Homo sapiens: one gene and its partner. The protein of the gene in region 1 purifies or fractionates together with the protein of each later gene. This does not show direct contact. Each region holds a gene or a part of one and is shown on either strand. Other genes may lie near its edges.

Region 1 (3,752 bases):
GGGAGGCGACAGGTGTCCCTCCTCCAAGCTCACAGTCTGCATGTGAGAGAGAACTGCAGGAGAAGCTTGCCCTAGGCAAAGCCAGGTGTCAGGTCCAGAATCGAGACTCCAGAGAAGAGGTTGAGGATTTAAGCCACTGAGGGGGTGGAGCTGGGCAGTGAGTAGGACGTCAGGCTTGCAAGCTCTGGGATTAGGCCGACCAGAGCCCATATCCCAGTCCCGCCTCTTACTGCCTGCTTGATCTCAAGCAAGACCGCTTTGTTCATGGGCGAAAGGAGCGCCCCGGGCCATGAGGATTAAATGGAGAGCACAGGGCCAGATCCATCTAAATTCTCAGTAAGTGTTAGCTATTGTTATTAAGACCACACCGAACAGACTGAACATCCGTTTTAGCCCCTTTCCCCAATTTTCGTTCTTTCCGGTGTTGACAAATCCTCTAGTTTTTTAAGTTTATAAAACATGTTGTACATAAGAATGACATATCACATGTGAAAGTACTCTAGTGTCCACGTAAATATTTGTCTTGTTCTTTATAATAAGTAAACATGCTCACGGATCCTTGAAATTATCTGGTCACTGCCGGGCGCGGTGGCTCACGCCTGTAATCCCAGCACTTTGGGAGGTCGAGGCGGGTGGACCACCTGGGGTCAGGAGTTCGAGACCAGGCTGGCCAACATGGCGAAACCCTGACTACACAAAAAACACAAAATTTAGCCGGGGCTTGGGCGCTCCTGTGCTCCCAGCTACTCAGGAGGCTGAGGTGGGAGGACTGCTTGAGCCTGGGAGGTCGAGGCTGCAGTGAGCTGTGATCGCGCCACTTAAACTCCAGCCTGGACGACAGTGAGACCCTGTCTCAAGAAGAAAAAAAGAAAGAAAGAAAGAAAAAAAGAAAAAAAAGAAATTATTTGGTCAATTATATGGTCAGCTCCCTCCACCACTCGCGAATTTACAGAAGAGGAGAACTGGGCTGGGCGAGACCAGGACTAGCCCAAGATTACACAAGTTACTCGGTTGTAGAGCCAGGATTAGACAGGAGAGGCTCTAGATTCTGGTCTAGACTCCCCTCCTATTATTTAGCATTATGGCTTCCTGAGGATTACCATGAGCCCTCCTCCACCGTCAAGCGGCAGCTACCAGCCACCAGACCAGATCCCTTCGAAGGTGCCCGGAGTACCAGACTGACAAAAGCGCCCGTACAGTGCTCAGTCCTGTAACCAAAGCTGTCTAGGGTGCAGACATCGCTCACCGGACCGGGTAGGGCTCGTGCGCTAAGGGCGCCGGGTATTCCAGTTAGTGGAGAGGGAAGCGCCCTGGAACTGCATGGGCCCGGGAGAGGGCGCGGGAGCGGAGCAGGGCCGGGCCGGGGCGGGCCGCGGCCGTGGGCGGAGACTGCGCGCAGCTAGCTCGGGAGCGCCTCGGAGCCCACCCCGCAGAGCCGCTTCTCGCGCCCCGCAGCGCAGCGCAGCGCTCCGCCGTCTGACCTGCCGCGCCCGCAGCGTGCGGGCTGGGAAAGGAGGCGCTCACCGAGAGGGACCACGCGCCAGGCTCCCAGCCCGACCCGGGACGCGGCGGCCGCGCGGAGCACCCATGGGCAGCCCCTGGAACGGCAGCGACGGCCCCGAGGGGGCGCGGGAGCCGCCGTGGCCCGCGCTGCCGCCTTGCGACGAGCGCCGCTGCTCGCCCTTTCCCCTGGGGGCGCTGGTGCCGGTGACCGCTGTGTGCCTGTGCCTGTTCGTCGTCGGGGTGAGCGGCAACGTGGTGACCGTGATGCTGATCGGGCGCTACCGGGACATGCGGACCACCACCAACTTGTACCTGGGCAGCATGGCCGTGTCCGACCTACTCATCCTGCTCGGGCTGCCGTTCGACCTGTACCGCCTCTGGCGCTCGCGGCCCTGGGTGTTCGGGCCGCTGCTCTGCCGCCTGTCCCTCTACGTGGGCGAGGGCTGCACCTACGCCACGCTGCTGCACATGACCGCGCTCAGCGTCGAGCGCTACCTGGCCATCTGCCGCCCGCTCCGCGCCCGCGTCTTGGTCACCCGGCGCCGCGTCCGCGCGCTCATCGCTGTGCTCTGGGCCGTGGCGCTGCTCTCTGCCGGTCCCTTCTTGTTCCTGGTGGGCGTCGAGCAGGACCCCGGCATCTCCGTAGTCCCGGGCCTCAATGGCACCGCGCGGATCGCCTCCTCGCCTCTCGCCTCGTCGCCGCCTCTCTGGCTCTCGCGGGCGCCACCGCCGTCCCCGCCGTCGGGGCCCGAGACCGCGGAGGCCGCGGCGCTGTTCAGCCGCGAATGCCGGCCGAGCCCCGCGCAGCTGGGCGCGCTGCGTGTCATGCTGTGGGTCACCACCGCCTACTTCTTCCTGCCCTTTCTGTGCCTCAGCATCCTCTACGGGCTCATCGGGCGGGAGCTGTGGAGCAGCCGGCGGCCGCTGCGAGGCCCGGCCGCCTCGGGGCGGGAGAGAGGCCACCGGCAGACCGTCCGCGTCCTGCGTAAGTGGAGCCGCCGTGGTTCCAAAGACGCCTGCCTGCAGTCCGCCCCGCCGGGGACCGCGCAAACGCTGGGTCCCCTTCCCCTGCTCGCCCAGCTCTGGGCGCCGCTTCCAGCTCCCTTTCCTATTTCGATTCCAGCCTCCACCCGCCGGTACTTCCCATCCCCCGAGAAAACCATGTCCTGTCCCCCAGGAGCTCTGGGGGACCCCAGGGCGCTTTGAGGGTGGGATCCCCGGATCCGATTCAGTAACCAGCAGTGCTTTTCCAGAGCCTCTGAGACCAGAAAGGAGAGTTGGTAATTCTTAATCCAACCACCTGTTAGATGCCACAGATGAGGAGTCCTCACAGTGCTCTTGAGAAGACGAGGGAGATTTCATTAAGCTAAAATTTTTTATTTAATGTTAAGTGATGCTGAAGGCTAAAGTAAACCTTGCTCGTATCAAAAAGTAAAGATTGTGCAGACCTGTTGTAGAATTCTTTTCAACAGAGAACAGAAAACTTGTCTCCGAAGTGGGTTTGTGGAAGGAAGCCTGCCAAGGCGGCTTGTTCAGAGAAATTGCTCCTTCTGGTTTATGTCCAGCCTTGATAACACATATGGGAGCCTACTATGCAGTTTTAAAGCAAGTATCCATGCAGCCTGCAGCCTGGTCATTTTTTCTGGGGTGAGGATCTGCCTAGGTAGAAGTTTTCTCTAATTTATTTTGCTGTTACTTGTTATTGCAGATGGTTCCTTGTCGGGGTGGGGGGTTTATTTGCTTCCCAATGCTTTTGTTAATCCCGGTGCTGTGTCTTATGTTGCAGTGGTGGTGGTTCTGGCATTTATAATTTGCTGGTTGCCCTTCCACGTTGGCAGAATCATTTACATAAACACGGAAGATTCGCGGATGATGTACTTCTCTCAGTACTTTAACATCGTCGCTCTGCAACTTTTCTATCTGAGCGCATCTATCAACCCAATCCTCTACAACCTCATTTCAAAGAAGTACAGAGCGGCGGCCTTTAAACTGCTGCTCGCAAGGAAGTCCAGGCCGAGAGGCTTCCACAGAAGCAGGGACACTGCGGGGGAAGTTGCAGGGGACACTGGAGGAGACACGGTGGGCTACACCGAGACAAGCGCTAACGTGAAGACGATGGGATAACCAGCACGGCCAAGCCAGGCTCCTCTTGCAGTTCTAAGACTTTGGGGAAAACAGGTGTGTAGAGAAATAAAGACTGCAAATGAGGAACAGATCCTGTTAAGAAGAATGGAAAGAGGGTTGCAGTT
Region 2 (3,652 bases), on another chromosome or scaffold:
GGGAGACAGACAAGTAAATGAGTGCATCCAACTGTGATGGGTACTGTGACTCTTTTACGTATGGGGTGCATTGAGAGAACAAATAAAGAGCTCTGGCAGGGGGCTGGGAAAGGTTTCATAGAAGATGTGAAGTGTAAGCTGTTTTGAAAGCTGAGTGGGGTCTCACCAGCTGGATGAGGGTAGAAGATGGGGAGTAGAAGAGAGCATTCCAAGCAGATGAAATATAGTCAGTCCAGGGAGAGTGCTGGGAGCCTCCAGGGAGACTACAGGTTGAAAGCCTAAAGGGACCGTCTAAAGTTCACCAGGTGTGGGCTTCATCACTTGCTTATTGGTCAATGGACCACATGGAGGCACTTTCTGGACTCTGAGAACCTCTGTGATAGTGTAGAGACAGCAAGGCCCAAGATGACCCAACCTCCCTGTTTATTAAGCACTTATAGTTTGCTACAGTTTACAGGACACCTTGGGGAGAAAAAAGTATACAACACACACACACCCACATACTCATAATACAAATATATAAAACACACAATTCACACTTGTATTTTATACAGATTACCCACCTATAAGCCCAAATATCTGTTCTTCAGAAACTGTCAGAGACTTTAAACTCTCCACTCCTCAATACTTACAACACTAAGGATGTGAGATATACTTAGGGAGACTGTCTAAAAGCTAAGCAGTACATCTATTCTAGAGGAAGATTTCAAACTTTCAAACCTACAGGCATGGAACTCTTTTTGTAAGGCAACCTTACCCTGGACCCCAATACATAAAATAAAAGCTCTTCTTTTAAGCAAAGGTAGGTAGAGTTCTGCTTTGGGGCCACTGAGACATGCCTGGGCACCTAGGCCTCAAAGGAGCACAAGGATCAAAATATGTTAAGCTTGGAAAAAGTCAGGACACCGATGAGCTACATACTCAAACCACATAGTTTTGTTCCTTCATACTATTACTTTTGTTGTGAATTGTGTTTTGGTGAGAAGCATGAATTTGCATTGAGATAAACTGTAAGAACAGCATATAAATACTCAGTGCTGGAAGGATGTTTGATATTCAAGACATGGTCACATTCAGCATACAGAGTCTGCTCTACAGTTGATGATGAAGAGTAGTGCTTCTCTGGAATAATGGGTTTGTTTTTATACTAGGACACTCTAAACCATGTAGCTGATTATGTTTCCCTCTTGGCAAAGGTTGCTAGGAAGCTCAAAGACAACATTTTGGCCCCAACTCTTGCAGGTGTCCAAGAACTTAATACTTACCCTAGCTTCCTCTTATTTTTCCCTCACCCTTGCTTTCCCTTTGCTCCAATTTTCTCACTTACTTATTTATTTTTATTGTTGTATTGTGACCATTTTTATAAGATATCTCAAGTCCTTTGTGGAAGGAACTGGTAAAAAAAAAGAGTTTATAAATTTAAAATTTATTTACACATTCAATATAACAAAATATATACATATCAAAAATGATGAATTATCTAAAACTCACAGCACAAAGCCCATATGTACCTCATACAAATATAAAACAATACACACAGATCACATAGGTACATAATTCACAATCACAACACTAATGTCATAAATACAAACACACTCGTACCCTGTTTACCCCACTCTCATGAGCATGTGTACAAATGCACACATGCACATACATGTGTCATGTACATACCAAGCTGCTCTGCAAGGAGCTGGCCCTTCTCAGTGGGAACAACCCTCTCTTCCTCCATGTCACACTTGTTCCCCACCAGAATAACTTGTGCATTGTCCCAGGAGTAGGTCTTGATCTGAGTAGCCCTAAAATGAGATAGAAAGAGATATGTTAATCATATTCCTATAGACTGAATGTCTGTGTCCCCACCTCCAAATTTACATGTTGAAGCCTAATCCCCAATGTAATGGTATTTGGAGGTGGAGTCTTCGGGATGTAATTATGTCAATGAGGCTAGAGTCCTAATAAATGTGTCCATATAAGAAGAGAAAGAGGCTAGAGCCCTCTTTCTCTCTTGGCCATGGGAGGATACAACAAGAAGCTGGCTGTCTCCAGATACTGGAGCTGCTGGCACCTTGATCTTGGACTTCCTAGCTCCAGAACTGTGAGAAAGAAATGTCCGTTATTTAAGCTACCAAGTCTATAGTATTCTTGTTATAGCAGCCCAAACTGACCAAGACACATACCCTCCTATGACAAAAAGAAAACTGTGAAGTGTGAAGAAATGGTTTCTCTTCCACAGGACTAGCAACATCCAAGTTATTGCCAATTAATTCAGCTGAGGACAGACAGATACCTGTCCCTGCTGGCTGTCACAGATGCTGACTCCTAAGCCCTAGCTGCAAACCTCATCCATCTTTTTGAAGTCCACCTCTACCATATCTGGCCATCCCTCTCCTCACTGGGCAGAGAGGTCTTTCTAAAACAGGTATTTGATCACAATGAATCTTTTCTTAAAAGCCTTCTCTGGCCCCCAGCTAGCTATGTGATCAAGTCCAGATTCCTCAGTTCAAGATCACTCATGCTGTGTCTCTCCAGCCTCATTACCCATTCTCCTGCCTCCCTAACCTTTTTACTCATTCCCCAAAAGCTCTTCCATGGCTTGTGCTTTTGCCTACACTGGGAAGTCCTTCCCCACAACTAACTCATCCTCCAGGGCCCAGTGCTGATCCCACAACACCTTGAGGGGAGCCTCTTCAAGCTTCTCCTAGATCCACTTAGCCTCCACCTCCTCCTATGTGATTCATAAACCTTCCCTGAAGCCTCGGATTATGATTATTTGCAGGAACCAAAATGTCAGCAGTGGTTACCTTCATATAAGATGATTATAAGACTTTTAAAAAATACTTTTTGGCCGGGTGCGCTGGCCCACGCCTGTAATCCCAGCACTTTGTGAGGCCGAGGTGGGCGGACCACGAGGTCAGGAGATCGAGACCATCCTAGCTAACATGGTGAAACCCCGTCTCCACTAAAAATTAAAAAAAAAAAATTAGCTGGGCATGGTGGCAGGCGTCTGTAGTCCCAGCTACTCAGGAAGCTGAGGCAGGAGAATGGCGTGAACCCGGGAGGTGGAGCTTGCAGTGAGCCAAGATCGCATCACTACACTCCAGCCTGGGTGACAGAGCGAGACTCCATCTCAAAAAAAAAAAAAAAAAAAAAAACCTTTTCAAATTTCTGTACTTTTCACATTTTTAAAAGTGAGCATGTATTACTTCTTTAATTAAAAACAAAATTTTAAGAGGAAATAAAAAAGGACTCTCTTATATTATGAAGACATCTTTTTGTGGAGATGGGCCTAACATTCCCCAAAGACCCCATCAGGTAGAAATGATTACTTCCTCTTTTGGTCTCCTGCACGTTCACCATGACACCTATTACACTTGGCTGAATTTGTCTCTCTCCCTGAGGGCAAGGACCGGCCTATTCATCTTTGGGATGCCAATACCCAGCACAGAACACACAGCGAAGAAGGTGTCAGTGAATGCTGATAAATGAACGAGCCAGTGAATGGTCAGTCCTGAAGCAGATCTTGAATCTGACTCTACCCTGACACTGACAACCTAACTCAACCCTAACTGCAACCTGAACCTACTACTGACCCTGCTCTTAAAGTTGATCTTACCACCAACCTTCTCATTTATGGTGAGAAGCCATTCCCTCA

Evidence for each region. The genes of interacting proteins can lie anywhere in the genome.
Region 2: the proteins of MLNR (region 1) and RAB3B purify together in Homo sapiens (affinity purification with mass spectrometry; one large-scale study listed by BioGRID and IntAct). This does not show direct contact.

Annotation. Positions count from the first base shown.
Region 1 is NC_000013.11:49,218,751-49,222,502, forward strand, and holds MLNR (motilin receptor), read left to right. Parts: upstream 1-1,587; coding exon 1,588-2,488; intron 2,489-3,289; coding exon 3,290-3,627; downstream 3,628-3,752. UniProt on the Homo sapiens protein: Receptor for motilin.
Region 2 is NC_000001.11:51,931,647-51,935,298, forward strand, and holds part of RAB3B (ras-related protein Rab-3B), read right to left. Parts: intron 1,797-3,652; coding exon 1,672-1,796; intron 1-1,671. UniProt on the Homo sapiens protein: The small GTPases Rab are key regulators of intracellular membrane trafficking, from the formation of transport vesicles to their fusion with membranes.